Regions from separate parts of the Homo sapiens genome. Here region 2 is linked to region 1. A link means that fine-mapping ties the variant in region 1 to the expression of a gene that starts in the linked region. Tissue or cell type: whole blood. Region 1 holds a variant in brackets; the other region holds the start of a gene. All regions are shown on one strand. Distances are between the middles of the regions.

Region 1 (8,106 bases):
AAAGACTTAAATGTAAGACCTAAAACCATAAAAACCCTAGAAGAAAACTTAGGCAATACCATTTAGGACATAGGCATGGGCAAAAACTTCATGACTAAAGCACCAAAAGCAATGGCAACAAAAGCCAAAATTGACAAATGGGATCTAATTAAACTAAAGAGCTTCTGCACAGCAAAAGAAACTATCATCAGAGTGAACAGGCAACCTACAGAATGGGAGAAAATTTTTGCAATCTATCCATCTGACAAAGGGCTAATATCCAGAATCTACAAAGAACTTAAACAAATTTACAAGAAAAAAACAACCCCATCAAAAAGTGAGCAAAGGATATGAACAGACACTTCTCAAAAGAAGACATTTATGCATCCAACAGACATATGAAAAAATGCTTGTCATCACTGGTCATCAAAGAAATGCAAATCAAAACCACAGTGAGATACCATCTCACACCAGTCAGAATGGTGATCATTAAAACGTCAAGAAACAATAGATGCTGGAGAGGATGTGGAGAAATAGGAACACTTTTACACTTTTGGTGGGAGTGTAAATTAGTTCAACCATTATGGAAGACAGTGTGAAGATTCCTGAAGGATCTAGAACTAGAAATACCATTTGACCCAGCAATCCCATTACTGGGTATATATAAAAGATTATAAATCATGCTACTATAAAGACACATGCACACGTATGTTTACTGAGGCACTATTCACAATAGCAAAGACTTGGAACCAACCCAAATGTCCATCAATAATAGACTGGATAAAGAAAATGTGGCACATATACACCATGGAATACTATGCAGCCATAAAAAAGGAGGAGTTCACGTCCTTTGCAGGGACATGGATGAATCTGGAAACCATCACTCTCAGCAAAATAGCACAAGGGCAGAAAACCAAACACCACGTGTTCTCACTCGTAAGTGGGAGTTGAAAAATGAGAACACATGGACACAGGGAGGGGAACATTACACACTGGGGCCTGTTGAGAGGTGGGGGGGCTGGGGGAGGGATAGCGTTAGGAGAAATACCTAATGTAAGTGACAAGTTGATGGGTGCAGCAAACCAACATGGCACATGTATACCTATGTAACAAACCTGCACGTTGTGCACATGTACCTTAGAACTTAGAGTATAATAATAAAAAAAGTAGCTGTTGTACATTTTATCCAGAAAGGGGGTGTCTGTTATCTTATGGGTGACACAAAGACCTTGTTTTTGCCTATGCTTAGATAATGCTATGAAGTGGCCTTGTCTCATTTTATTGTGATCTCAGAGTACTTTTGTCTCAGCTTGGTATTCTATGAGATTTAAATTGTTAATGTTCAACAGAATAATATTATGGCCAAGCTGTGAGTGCCAGGTCAGCTTCTGAATATCAGGGGCTGCTTTTTGCCCTCTTTCTCAATAATAAACAAAGAGAACATATAAACAAAATATATAGAGAAAAAGAAACACAACCCCACAATAAAATGGGCAAATTGGCATAATCTTATTAATGTGAATACCTGCTTATTTTATAACCAGCAATTCCACTCCTATGTATCTATCTTAGAGATTTCTAGCAAGTTCCTAGGTGATGCTGATGCTTTGTGAACCACTGTCCTACAACAGGGTTTTTCAGCCTCCACACTATTAACATTATAGGCTGGATCATTTTGTATAATTTAGGCTGCTCTGTGCATTTTAAGATGTTTAGCAGCATCCACCCTCTTAATTCTAGTAACACTCCTGAGTTCTAATAATAAAAGTGTCTCCAGACATTGCCAAATGTCTTCTGGGTTTCAGGGGTGGGTGGGAATAGCAAAATTTCCCCCATCTGAGAATTACTGCCCTAGAAAAAGTCTTGGTCCTATACACTAGGAAACATTTATAGGTGTTCATAGCAACTTCATAGAAAAAAACCTGAAAATAAGCCAAATGTCTTTCAACAGGTATATACACAAAACAGAATATTATACAACAATAAAAATGAGTGAATGATAGCTATACATTGGATGGATGAGTGAAAAAAGCAAGTCAAATAATATCCTCAAGAAATAATGCTATTTTATACAACTTTTACTTTTTTATTTTTCTTTTTTCTTTTTTTGATGGAGTTTCACTCTTGTCACCCAGGCTGGAGTGCAATGGGGCATCTTGGCTCACTGCAATCTCTGCCTCCCAGGTTCAAGCGATTCTCCTGTCTCAGCCTCCTGAGTAGCTGGGATTACAGGCACCCACCACCAAGCCTGGCTAATTTTTTGTATTTTTATTAGAGGTGGGGTTTCACCATGTTGGCCAGGCTGGTCTCGAACTTCTGACCTCAGGTGATCCGTTCACTTCCATCTCCCAAAGTGCTGGGATTACAGGCATGAGCTACCATGCCTGGCCTTTATAAAACTTTTGAACAACGGAAACTGAATCCACTAGATAAGGATTCCTAGGTATGTGGTAAAACTATACAAACACTTCTCTACTTACAATGTGGTTACCTCCTGATAAACCCATCATAAGTTGAAAATATCCTATGTCAAAAATACATGTAAAACACCTAACCTACCAAACACCATAGCTTAGGCTACCCTACCTTAAACATGCTCAGAACACTTACATTAGCCTACAGTTGGGCAAAGTCATCTAACATAATAAGGTGTAATAAAGTGTCTAATATACCCTGTAATTTATTGAATACTGTATTAAAAATGAAAAACAGAATGGTTGTATGGGTACTCACAGCATGGTTTCTACTGAATGCATATAGCTTTTGCATCACTGTAAAGTTAGGAAATCAAAGAGAAACCATCATAAGTCAGGGGTCGTCTGTAAAGATAGGCACTAGAAAGGAGAGTGGTTAACTCTTATGTGAAGTTCATACAAGTGGGAGCCTTTTTGGTAACCAACAGAACTGATTACCACATAGTCACACTGTATGAATTAAAACGAAGGCCCGGGATGCACATTGTGTCTCACGCCTGTAATCTCAGCACTTTGGGAGTGTCACTTGAGGCCAGGAGTTCAGGTTACAGTGGACTATGATTATGCCACTGCACTCTAGCCTGAGTAACAGGGACTCAAAAATTAAATTAAAACAATAAATAAAATAAATAAATACAAATAAAATTAAATACAGAGGTTCTCAGAATGTGGTCCTCCCCACCACCACCAGCAATATTACCATCATCTGGGGACCTGTTAGAAATGCAAATTCCCAGTCTCCTTCTAGATCTATTGAACCAGAAGTTCTGGAAGTGGGGCACAGCAATCTGTGTTTTATCCAGCCTACCAGATAATTTTGATACACACCAAAGTTTGAGAACCACTAGATTAAGGGATGAGTTTTACTGGGGAAAGGGGAAACTTACAAAACCAAGAGAAAACACAGGTTTCCCCCTTCTCCCATCATCCCAAGGAGCAGCATGCTGGGGCCAGAGTAGTCTGCTGGATCCATGGTGTGGGTTTGCATAATAGGAGAGGAATCCCATCCTCTTGTTGCTCTCCTATTTATAGGGCACACACAAAAAGAATTTTGTCAGTAAGGAAACTACTAGAGCACCAGGCAGTCTGTTTACAGGCATTTATTTGTTTGTTTGTTTGTCTGAGACAGACTCTCACTCTGTCGCCCAGGCTGGAGTGCAGTGGCACGATCTCAGCTCACTGCAAGCTCCACCTCCCGGGTTCACGCCATTCTTCTGCCTCAGCCTCCCCAGTAGCTGGGACTACAGGCGCCCGCCACCATGCCCGGCTAATTTTTTGTATTTTTAGTAGAGACGGGGTTTCACTGTGTTAGCCAGGATGGTCTTAATCTCCTGACCTCGTGATGCGCCCCCCTCGGCCTCCCAAAGTGCTGGGATTACAGACGTGAGCCACTGCGCCCGGCCC[G/T]ATAGGTATTTTTTGAAAAAGCCCATTATCCAGTATCTGGAGACCTTGGGTCAAACAGAAAGTTGTTGGAACTTGTGTTGGAAGAAACTGTCCATCCCATGAAAAGCTGAGTTCAGGTGTAGCCCCTCCAACTGTGAGCCAGAAGGTCCAGGTCCCACTGGCTGGTTGCCCAGGAAAATCCAGAGAAAACACCCAAGGTCGTTTCTGTTTGATTCTGGTCATTGCATTAAAGCGTGCAATCAGAAAGCATGAAGGAGACTGACAGGTGTATTAGTCTGTTCTCACGCTGCTAATAAAGACATACCCAAGACTGGGTTATAAAGGAAAGAGGTTTAATTGACTCACAATTCTGCAAGGCTGGGGAGGCCTCAGGAATCTTACAATCTTGGTGGAAGGGAAAGCAAACACGTCCTTCTTCACATGACCGCAGCAAGGAGAAGTGCAGAGCAAAGTAGGGGGAAGCCCCTTATAAAATCATCAGATCTCATGAGAACTCACCCACTACCACAAGAGCAGCATGGAGGTAACTGCCCCCATGATTCGGTTATCACCCACTGGGTCCCCACGTTGGGATTATGGGAACTACAATTCAAGATGAGATTTGGGTGGTGACACAGCCAAACCATATCACCAGGTTATTTTTTTCCTCTCTCTGTAATTTTCAGTGATAGATTTATACTTATTCCTTTTATTATTAATAGTTTATGTATGTAAATCCATAAATTATTTTGTTTGTAAAAAATATTACAAGTTTAAAGTAAAAATTTCAAAACAATCTCTATAGTACACAAGCATACTTATTTCCTTATTTCATATCCTGAGGTTCTTAGAGAGTGTAAGCATACATTATGGAGCAAAAATTAAGTATGATTTACTATTCGTAACCTAAAATTAATTACCTATAATTTTATTTACTTTTGATGTGCAAAATTCGAAATTTTGCCATTGGAAAAGGTTGCTTTCTATGTTTTCTTAACACCACTTTGGAACTTTAAAAGGCATTTAAAAAAATCCCTCATTCTAGTAGCAAGATCACTTAGGTCCACCTTAAAGGTTTTTCTTTTCTTTTTTTTTCTCTAGGAATTGAAATTCTCCAAGAACTTTTAGTTCTATTTAGTGGAGAATAGCTTTACAGACCAAACTCTAGGCACTAGGTGTTAAATGCATTAGTTATTTTACTATTTTAAATTTGGGCTTTCGGAAATGATAATGTGATTTAAAATTAAATGAGAATATCTAGGTAGAGGTCATGTAGAATGTGAAGTGACCCTGCATAATTTTCCTTTTCTTTTGGGTCCTAATATCTTAGATATATATTTATAGGGTATGAGCTTGATTGTTTTTCCTATTAGACTTGTTTTGGCACAATACCACTTATTTCATTTTTTTTTTTTCAAAACGGAGTCTCGCTCCATTGCCCAGACTGGAGTGCAGTGGTGTGATCCTGGCTCACTGAAACCTCCACCTCCTGGGTTCAAGTGATTCTCCTGCCTCAGCTTCCCTAGTAACTGGGAGTACAGGCATGCGCCACCATGCCTGGCTAATTTTTTTGTATTTTTAGTAGAGACGGGGTTTCACCATGTTGGCCAGGCTGGTCTTGAATGCCTGACCTCAGGGGATCTACCCACCTCAGCCTCCCAAAGTGCTGGGATTACAGGTGTGAGCCACCACACCTGGCCTAGTTATTTAATTAAAAAAAAAAGTTTTAAGGGACTCTTAAGGAGAACAACTATTATTAAAGTAGAATTTTGTAGGCTTAATTAATCCTTAAAGAGGATTAATAAGGGGAGAATATAAACAAACATGAAGGTTTGTTTTTGTGTCATCCACACATTTTTTAAACATTTTAAAATTGAGTTTAGTTTATAACTGAGTAGAGTTTAAAATGTTAACATTTTGTCATTAGATAAATGCAAATTCCTATTTGTATTTATTATCTATGCCAAAACATTAAACTGTTGAAAAAATGTATTAAAGTATATCAGTATATTTAACCACATTAATTTTGAAATACAATTAATATTATTCATGAAATATTAAACCATTACCCTGTACGTGTAGCGGGACGAACCACAGACAAGAACCCCTCAGACGACACCGAGTTGTGGAAGGAAAGGGCTTTATTCAGCTGGAAGCATCAGCAGACTCACGTTTCCAAAAACCGAGCTCCCCGAGTGAGCAATTCCTGTCCCTTTTAAGGGCTTACAACTCTAACGGGGTCCGCGTGAGAGGGTCGTGATCAATTAAGCAAGCAGTGGGTACGTGACTGGGAGCTGCATGCACCGGTCATCAGAACGGAATAAAACAGGACAGGGATTTTCACAATGTTTTTCCATACAATGTCTGAAATCTATAGATAACACGAGCAGTTAGGTCAGGGGTTGATTCTTAACTACCAGGCCCAGGGCGTGATGCTGGGCTATCTGCCTGTGGATTCCATTTCTGCCTTTTAATTTTTACTTCTTTCTTTGGAGGCAGAAATTGGGCATAAGACAATATGAGGGGTGGTCTCCTCCCTTATTCCCCCACTTTGAGAACCTCAGTCAATTAGTGGGAGTTCTCACTTTCATCCTCACTACCCATGTATTCTTGCAAGACAGATCGATAGTGATTCATATAGTACAGTTGTTCTGAAGCATTTTGGTGAACTAAGGTAGCGATGAAGCTTTTTATCATTTGAAGAAGTACAGGTAGCAAACAAGGGAGCAGTAAGCAGGTTCCTATTACTAATATAACTCCTATTATAAGAGTTTTAAATCCTCCTAACACTGGGAACCATTTTCCAAACATGGCCCCAGGATCAAATCCATGCCACACTTGCATGGGCACATGTGACAGTTTTATCATATCTCTGACTATGTCTTCAACTACTTGCCCTTGATCATCTACGTGTAGACAGCAATTAGTAAGGTTAAATTTCCCACAGACCCCTCCTTCAGCTGCTAGCAAGTAGTCAAGAGCCAATCTATTTTGATAGATAGCATTTCTCATCTGAGTCTCTTGACAGGCCAGAATAGTCAAGGCTCTGTCGGTTTTATTAGTGATTCTTTCTTTCTTTTCTTTTTTTTTTTTTTTTTGAGATGGAGTCTCACTCTGTCGCCCAGGCTGGAGTGCAGTGGCACAATCTCGGCTCGCTGCAAGCTCTGCCTCCCAGGTTCACGCCATTCTCCTGCCTCAGCCTCCCAAGTAGCTGGAACCACAGGCACCCGCCACCACCCCTGGCTAATTTTTTGTATTGTTAGTAGAGACGGGGTTTCACCATGTTAGCCAGGATGGTCTCAATCTCCTGACCTCGTGATCCACCTGCGTTGGCCTCCCAAAGTGCTGGGATTACAGGTGTGAGCCACCGCGCCCAGCCCATATTAGTGATTATTTCTAAGACAGCTTGTAACCATATGATTTGGTTGAGCATGTAAATGGGGGTCTAGTATCCCCATGAACCATCTCGTCCCCAAGTAGCAGGTCCATAATATTGTATGATTCTCTCTGGGGGCCATTCATTATCTTTCCAATTTCCTATAGCTATGCTTCTTTTTTCATGGGAAGCATAGACAGGGAAGCCCAGGAGTTCGCCTGTCTTTATGGACAGTAGGAAGAAAGATGGTTTAATAGTGCCAGTAATACAACTACCTGCCCACTGGCCAGGTAATTTAGCGTAAGCTCTATGCCCACATAGCCAGTATAATCCAGTGGGGGCTGTCCAGTCCTAGTGGGACTCCAGGTGGGTCCACATGGTTTGCAACCTTGGGAATTTACTAAATGGATTCCTTTCTGTGTGATTTGAACTCCACCAAGTGACTGTTTTTGTGGTACCATTATACAGTTTCTGTCCCAGACAACTAAGTTGTCCTAAGGGGTGAGTGAATTATTTTCCTTCTCTAGCTATGCAATATTGTCCAATAATTGAGGCTTCAGGGTCCAGAAATTATCAAGGTGACTCTTTTGAGCTGGGAATTCATTGGGAACTGGGTCTGTAGGTACTAATTCTTGGGCTTCCCATGGCCATTGATCTCCCATCACAGTTCCTCCACATACATAACATGAAGTGACACTGAGAGACTGGGCTACATGCTTGGCTAATTGCAAAAACAAATTTCTTGTTTTTCCTGGAATTTCTGGTACTGGCACATTTAGTTCATCTTAGAAAGTTTGAAACACTGGCTGAGCAGAGCGTTTGTAAACTTCTCCTCGAACTAAGATATTTACTCAAGGATCCAGTCCTGCCCCATCGATTCCTAAGGTCACATGC
Region 2 (8,087 bases), 190 kb before region 1:
GCAATGGGGAAAGGATTCCCTATTTAATAAATGGTGCTGGGAAAACTGGCTAGCCATATGCAGAAAACAGAAACTGGACCCCTTCCTTACACCTTATACAAAAATTAACTCAAGATGGACTAATAACTTAAATGGAAAACCTAAAACCATAAAAAGTCTAGAAGAAAACCTAGGCAATACCATTCAGGACATAGGCACGGGCAAAGACTTCATGACAAGGCCACCAAAAAGCAATTGCAACAAAAGCCAAAATCGACAAATGGGATCTAATTAAAGAGCTTCTGCCTAGCAAAAGAAACTATCGTGAGAGTGAACAGGCAACCTACAGAATGGGAGAAAATTTTCGTAATCTATCCATCTGACAAAGGGCTAATATCCAGAATCTACAAGGGACTTAAACAAATTTACAAGAAAAAAACAACCCCATCAAAAAGTGAGTGAAGGATATGAACAGACACTTCTCAAAAGAAGACATTTACGCAGCCAACAAACTTATGAAAAAAAGCTCATCATCACTTGTCATTAGAGAAATGCAAATCAAAACCACAATGAGATACCATCTCATGCCAGTTAGAATGGTGATCATTAAAAAGTCAGGAAACAACAGATGCTGGTGAGGCTGTGGAGAAATACGAACGCTTTTACACTGTTGGTGGGAGTGTAAATTAGTTCAACCATTGTGAAGACAGTGTGGCAATTCCTCAAGGATCTACAACCAGAAATGCCATTTGACCCAGCAATCCCATTACTGGGTATATACCCAAAGGATTACAAATCATTCTACTATAAAGACACATGCACGGCCAGGCGCGGTGGCTCATGCCTATAATCCCAGCACTTTGGGAGGCCGAAGCAGGTGGATCACGAGGTCAGCAGATTGAAACCATTCTGGCCAAAATGGTGAAACCCCATCTCTACTAAAAATACAAACATTAGCTAGGTGTGGTGGTGCACACATGTAGTCCCAGCTACTACGTAGGCTGAGGCAGAACTGCTTGAACCTGGGAGGCGGAGGCAGAGGTTGCAGCAAACCAATATTGCGCCACTGCGCTCCAGCCTGGGCAACAGAGCCAGACTCCGTCTCAAAAAAAAAAAAAAAAAAAGAATTTATGTACTTTGTAGGGACATGGATGAAGCTGGAAACCATCATTCTCAGCAAACTAACTAACACAGGAACAGAAAACCAAACACCACATGTTCTCACTCATAAGTGAGAGCTGAACAATGAGAATACATGGACACAGGGAGGGGAACATCACACACTGGGGCCTGTCGGGGGCGGGTGGGGGGCAAGGGGAGGGAGAGCATTAGGACAAATACCTAATGCCTGCAGGGCTTAAAACCTAGATGACGGGTTGACAGGTGCAGCAAACACCATGGCACATGTATATCTATGTTACAAACCTGCACGTTCAGCACATGTATCCCAGAACTTAAAAAAAAAAAGGAGAAAAAAAGAAAATACAAACTTAACGCTAGAGTAAAAAGTAATACCAATTCTTAGTAACTTCAAAAAAAATTTTAACTATATGAATAATAGCTTCATAATAAATTAACTACTCCCTTAACACAATTATTAATGCAAATTTGCTTAGTGGATTAAAAAACATCTGTGTCATATCTGCCATCCTCTCAAACAACATCTACCTTCTCTAAAACCTCAATTTGATCTGAGCCATCCCAACTCTCAACTACTCCTCCACACTGCCTGAGATGAAAAACGGCTGGGATTGAATGACTGCCAAAATATATTAAACCAATCTAACTGCAGGGTAACGGAGTGGATTTCTGCCTGAGGTAGTTTAAGTTGGTTCACATATCTACAAACACTATTGCAAACACCCTTCCCAATTATTATATACACACTGAGACTGGCACCCCATGATACTGCATATGCTGAATTCCTAGAAAAATAAACCTCAAGTAGAAAATATTCCTAAAATATTCACTTTTGTTTAAAAGGAAATTACTTATCTGTCCTGGTAAAAAGACATAAAATGACAAATATACAATAAACATTAAAATTAACAGTGTTAGGTTAAAAAATCATTATCCATGATTTATTTTTAAGTACATCTATGTTTTTGCTAGATTAGAGTTAACATAATTAAATGGAACTTTAAGCAATTATTACAGTTCATCTCCATGAGGTATTTGTGGGTTTTTTTGCTTTTTGTTTTTTTAGATGGAGTCTCGCTCTGTCACCCAGGCTGGAGTGCAGCAGCGTGATCTTGACTCACTGCCACCTCTGCCTCCCAGGTTCAAGTGATGCTCCTGCCTCAGCCTCCCAAGTAGCTGGGATTACAGGCGCATGCCACCAAGCCTGGCTGATTTTTGTATTTTCAGTAGAGACAGGGTTTCACCATGTTGGTCAGGCTGGTCTTGAACTCCTGACCACCTGATCCACCCGCCTCGGCCTCCCAAAGTGCTGGGATTACAGGCGTGAGCCACTGCGCCAGGCCTAACTCCATGTAGTATTAACTTTTCTTCTCTTCTGATTCTTGTACCAACTGCATCTTTTCTTTTAATTCCTTCTGATCTTTGGCATACTGTTCAAATACTGGTTGAAAAATATATACTCCTCCAGCAATTCCAAGGACAGTGGCAAAAAGCAGTTGTGCAAAAGTCAATCTCCTAAACATTGCTGCAACAAATACAGCTCAAGGAAAAGCTGGTTTTGGAAAGTCACACTCCACACCCAGGAAATCTCTTCAAATCTGCATACAAAAATGGAAAGCAAAGCCATCACTTAGTACAATGTCCTTTTAAAAGATGTTATGTCACTACTTTGCACTGGAGTGAACAATATTTTTATAATATGTTACTAATTAAAACAAGAATATAAATACATAAGGAGTACAGGAAGTGAATTAGGGAAGGGTATAAGACAAAACTAAAACCTTTTCTATTACAGAATGTTCTCAATGGTTTTAAATGCATACTTTTTCTTTTTTTTTTTTTTTTTGAGACGGAGTCTCGCTCTGTCGCCCAGGCTGGAGTGCAATGGCGCAATCTCGGCTCACTGCAAGCTCCGCCTCCTCGGTTAACGCCATTCTCCTACCTCAGCCTCCCGAGAAGCTGGGACTACAGGCGCGTGTCACCACACCCGGCTAATTTTTTGTATTTTTTGTAGAGACGGGGTTTCACCGTGTTAGCCAGGATGGTCTCGATCCTCTGACCTCCTGATCCGCCCGTCTTGGCCTCCCAAAGTACTGGGAATACAGGCGTGAGCCACCGCGCCCGGCCTGGTTTTACTTTTAACAAGAGGAGTGGGCCGCACGCGGTGGCTCACGCCTGTAATCCCAACACTTTGGGAGGCCGAGGCGGGCGGATCACGAGGTCAGGAGTTCCAGACCAGCCAGGCCAATATGGTGAAACCCCGTCTCTACAAAAAAACACAAAAATTGGCCAGGCGTGGTGGCGCGCCTGTAGTCCCAGCTACTTGGGAGCTGAGGCAGGAAAATCACTGGAACCCGGGAGGCAGAAGTTGCAGTGAGCCCAGATTGCGCCACTGCACTCCAGCCTGGACTACAAGAGCGAAACTCCGTCTCAAAAAAAAAAACAAAAACAAAAACAAAAAAAAAACCTAACAACAGCAACAACAACAAAAAAAATAGGAACCATTCGGCCTGTTTCCACATCTGTACAACAAGCTAAATCATCCCTACCCTGCCTACCTCGTTGAACAGGCATTTTTTGTGAGAGCAACGAACCTGAAATGTTAACACCAACACTGACGTCTACAATTACCGTTACCGTTTTTAATAACCACTCAGGTACCTCCGACTGTTCTGCGCCTGCTCCACGTCACTAAACTCGCTACCGCCTGCTCCCCTCCAGAGACCGGGGGCCTTCCAGCAGTTTTCGGACCCCCGAGCACAGAGACCGCCAAGCCAAAGGCGAGTAGCAATCCCTCGGTTCGGAAACGGCGAAAGGAAACCGCAAGGAGGCCACCACGTCGGGTGGGAGCTACGAAGTTGCCCGTTCCCGGTTACTTCCGGGCTTGCGAGCGACGACTGCTCTCAAAGGCCAAACTTAATGGATGGACGAGCAGCGCGCTACTGCAGCTTTCTTCCGCCTTAGGAAGGTGGCGGCCAGGGATGAGGAGGCCCCTAAGCAAGTGCGGAATGGAGCCGGGGGGCGGAGATGCCAGCCTCACTTTGCATGGTCTCCAGAACCGCTCCCACGGCAAGATAAAGCTGCGAAAGAGAAAGTCTACCTTGTACTTCAACACCCAGGAGAAGAGCGCCAGGCGCCGCGGGGGTGAGTGAGGGGACACTGTCTGGAGAGCTCCTACCCCCATCTAAAAGGAACCCCCTCCATTTCATTACCAGCCAGTTGCCCGTTGAGCTCTGTGTTGCCAGATCTTGAGTTTTGAAATGCTGGGAAATGCTGGAAACACAGATTTTAATATAAATTCTGATTTTTAAATGTTGGCAACTAAATTCAATTTTTTAAAAAATACTCTGTATTTGGCCGACAGGCTGTCCATTTGTGGTCAAGAGCAGGACTTTGGAGACATCACACAGACCCGGGTTTGAATCCTGATAAGTAATTTACAACTTTATTTGGACAAGGCAGTTTAATTTCTGGGCCTCAATTTGCTCGTCTGTAAAATGGGGCTAATAATACCTATCCCATAATATTGTTTGGAGGATTAAGTGAGATGCATGTGAAGAAATTAACACAGTGCCTGGCATATATAATAGTAATCATCAATATATATGTACAGAGGACCATTTTATATTGCACATATACAAAGGGCTGCTTCCCAAATTAGTAATTTGTTAGCTGGTTTCTTTCATTAGATACACACATAGTATGACCTAATTAATTAGCCTAAGGCCTTAGTTAACCCACTCTTTTTTTTTTGTATTTATTTTAATATTATCTTTACACAATAAGTTGCAAGAAAAGTTGGTTAAACTAAAAGAGTGGCAGTCACCCAGTGATGACGCTGTGGTGCTTGTATAACCAACCAAGTTGGCTTTAAGAATGGTGTGGAGGGACCAGAGGTCACTACTGTGCCTTACAAGGAGCCAACCAGAGCAGCAGATTTTAAGTTTTGCAAGTGGAACTGCCTGACTTTTGTGCCACTATTACCTGTTTTGTTCTGTTTTTCAGATCTTCTTGGAGAAAATATTTATCTGCTCTTGTTTACCATAGCTTTACGAATATTAAACTGCTTTTTAGTGCAGACAAGTTTTGTTCCAGATGAATACTGGCAGTCTCTTGAAGTTTCACATCACATGGTTTTCAAATATCCTTTGTGGTTTCTTTTCCAGACTATGAGTGTGTATTCATCTTGGAAATTGTGCTCAGTTTCTTTTAGAGTAGTCCCCCTTGCTCCCTCGTCTTCAGTAGATAGTTTCCAAAATCCCTAGTGGATGCTTGAAACTGTAGACAGTACCAAACTCTATATATATTGTTTTTATATATGTAAAAAATACACACACGCTTATGATAAAGTTTATACAAATTAGGTACAGTAAGAGATTAACAGTATTAAAATATAACAAGTATAACACAATACTATAATAAAAGTTATGTGAACTTTTATGTGGTCTCTCTCAAAATATCTTCATATTTTCAGACAGTGGTTGACTCTGGGCAACTGAAACATGGAAAGAGAAACCACAGATAAGGGGGGACTACTATACATATTTTCAGTTTTCCGTATTTTCCCCAAATAATTTTAACTCATCAAAGTATACCATTATTTTATACAAATATTTCTCCTGTATCTTTCTTTTATGTTAATATACTTGACACAGCCGTTAGCATACATTCCCACAGTACTTAGCACTTGGAGGATACAGAGAAAGTAAAAAACACATTACTGCCTTGAAGAAGTTAAGAGTTTAGTTGGCCAATTGAATTTTTAATGCAAATATCCAGTATAAAATGCTGTTTTAAGACTGCCACAAAATAAAATATTGTTTTATAAATGGAAATGAAAATAGATTTTGCCAGGTGAAGTGGTGTGCACCTGTAGAGGCAGGACCACTTGAGCCCAAGTTTGAGACCAGCCTGGGCAAGAGAGTGAGACCCCATCTTAAAAAAAAAAAAAACACGGAAATAGGTTTCAATATTATTGGACATTTACTCCTTAATGTTACTAATTATGGTTATTTGACTTGGGAATGGACAGAGAGACTGAGGAGTTACACTTATCCCTTAATCTTTGCAAGCATTTACAAGATTCTTCATCTTTTAGGGAAAGATAGTGTTCAGTTGCTGGTAAGTTTAAATAAAAGTAACTAAATGATATTGGGGCCATGGAATTTGTTTTTAAAAGGCTACTGTTGCTGAAGTCCAGCCATATCTGGGAAGCCCATGATACTACAGACATACTGTGATGTGTAACTCTTTAGTTTGTGCTGAAATACAAGACTGAGCATGAAAATATCCTGCTATGAGGAATCCTGTTATGATGTGCAGATTTTCAAAATGACTATATTATGTATTATTTGGACATTAGAAGTATACTTCTTTCTTTTTTTTTTTTTTTTTTTTTTTTGGGACGGAGTTTGCTCTTGTTGCCTAGGCTGGAGTGCAATGGCGTGATCTTGGCTCACCACAACCTCCACCTCCCGGGTTCAAGCGATTCTCCTGCCTCAGCCTCCCGAGTAGCTGGGATAACAGGCATGCACCACCATGCCCGGCTAATTTTGTATTTTTAGTAGAGATGGGGTTTCTCTGTGTTGGTCAGGCTGGTCTCGAACTCCCGACCTGAGGTGATCTGCCCGTGCGGTGGCTCACACCTGTAATCCCAGCACTTTGGGAGGCCGAGGCGGGCGGATCACCTGAGGTTGGGAGTTCGAGACCAGCCTGACCAACACAGAGAAACCGCGTCTCTACTAAAAATACAAAATTAGCCGGGTGTGGTCGCGCATGCCTGTAATCTCAGACTTTCTGGAGGCTGAGGTAGGAGAATCACTTGAACCCAGGAGGTGGAGGTTGCGGTGAGCCGAGATCACGCCATTGCATTCTAGCCTGGGCAACAAAAGCGAAACTCCTTCCCCCATCCCCCGCAAAAAAAGTATCACTTGAGAGCACCGTTGTATTTTGTGTTTTTTACCTTGTAAGAAGACCGTGTGATATGATTTTATGAAGTCTGTATACATCTAAACCCACTGAGGATTTAGTGTTGAAATTAAAACTTTAAAATTTTTAATTTGACAAACATTTAATGATCTGCATAATCATCGTCCTATATAGTAATTAGGCATCAACAGTAAGTAGGATTGTAATTCCTAGGCTATTAATTGCTGGGGTCAGTTGCCAGGAGATAGTACAAGGGCAGGACTAATGGTGTAAAAGTTTCTCTAGCCTCACTCCCATGATCTTTTAAGCTGTCATCAGATGAGACTCAGAGTTTGTGCTCCCCCCGATTTCTGTCAGTGGGGGTTAATGGCTCAGCATTCCAAAGGCAGTCCAAATCCTGACGTGTTTTGTGTAGCTTAGAAAGACACAGGTTCTAGGGTATTTGTTTTAAGGTGGGGTTGTACTCTCCCCATTGCAATATTTGCTTCCGTTATTGAGAAATTAGGGTTAAACCAGTGAAACCGATGCTTCAAATGGGAAGATGATGGGGAAGGAGAATTCAGAGCAGTAGCAGAGTTTCTTCCATTAACAACAGGCAGAATTTAGGAGCCGCAACCTGGCTTTTCTTCTCTTACAGTTATCTACTAGTTTATAGATTATGCAAGGTATCCATAAAGTCTGGAATCACAAGAAAATATACATAATCTCATCAATGACAGTTTATATCCCAGGAAGTAGGTCAGATTACAAATGAAGAGGTCTTCAAGATAGAAAAATTTCCTGCTCCTCCAAGACCTATCCACTGCCCTCCATCTGTAGCTGACCCACCAGGTCATTTTGTGATGTGAAGGAAGCCTCCCCTGACCTGCTCCAACCCCTCTAAAAGGAACTCATTGTCGTATCTAGAACTTGACCCTGTAGAGATTCATTAGGATATGATCAGTCATTCATACTCTCATATTGATTATTTTAAGCAAATTATATACATAATTTTGAAGCTAGAAGAGGTTGGAGAAGTGAAGTAAATAGACCAAGGTCAC

What was found. PIP is the estimated chance that this variant, and not a neighbour inherited with it, causes the effect.
Region 2: PIGB starts here. The variant in region 1 is fine-mapped to the expression of PIGB in whole blood (TOPMed, PIP 0.96).

What each region holds. Positions count from the first base shown.
Region 1 is chr15:55,504,782-55,512,887 of GRCh38, forward strand. It overlaps DNAAF4 (dynein axonemal assembly factor 4), which reads right to left and starts at 3,453. Exons shown (of 10, transcript NM_130810.4): 1 at 3,341-3,453. It overlaps LOC124903496, which reads right to left. Exons shown (of 2, transcript XM_047433411.1): 2 at 5,960-8,106. The variant G/T (reference allele first, on the strand shown) is at 3,858.
Region 2 is chr15:55,315,151-55,323,237 of GRCh38, forward strand. PIGB (phosphatidylinositol glycan anchor biosynthesis class B) reads left to right here and starts at 4,072. Exons shown (of 12, transcript NM_004855.5): 1 at 4,072-4,263; 2 at 5,125-5,260; 3 at 6,123-6,240. The coding sequence starts at 4,101. It overlaps PIGBOS1 (PIGB opposite strand 1), which reads right to left and starts at 3,973. Exons shown (of 2, transcript NM_001308421.2): 1 at 3,714-3,973; 2 at 2,034-2,717. The coding sequence starts at 2,642. The coding sequence ends at 2,478. It also overlaps a transcript of RAB27A not described here. RefSeq lists enhancers at 3,832-3,901, 3,952-4,041, 4,102-4,181, 4,252-4,331.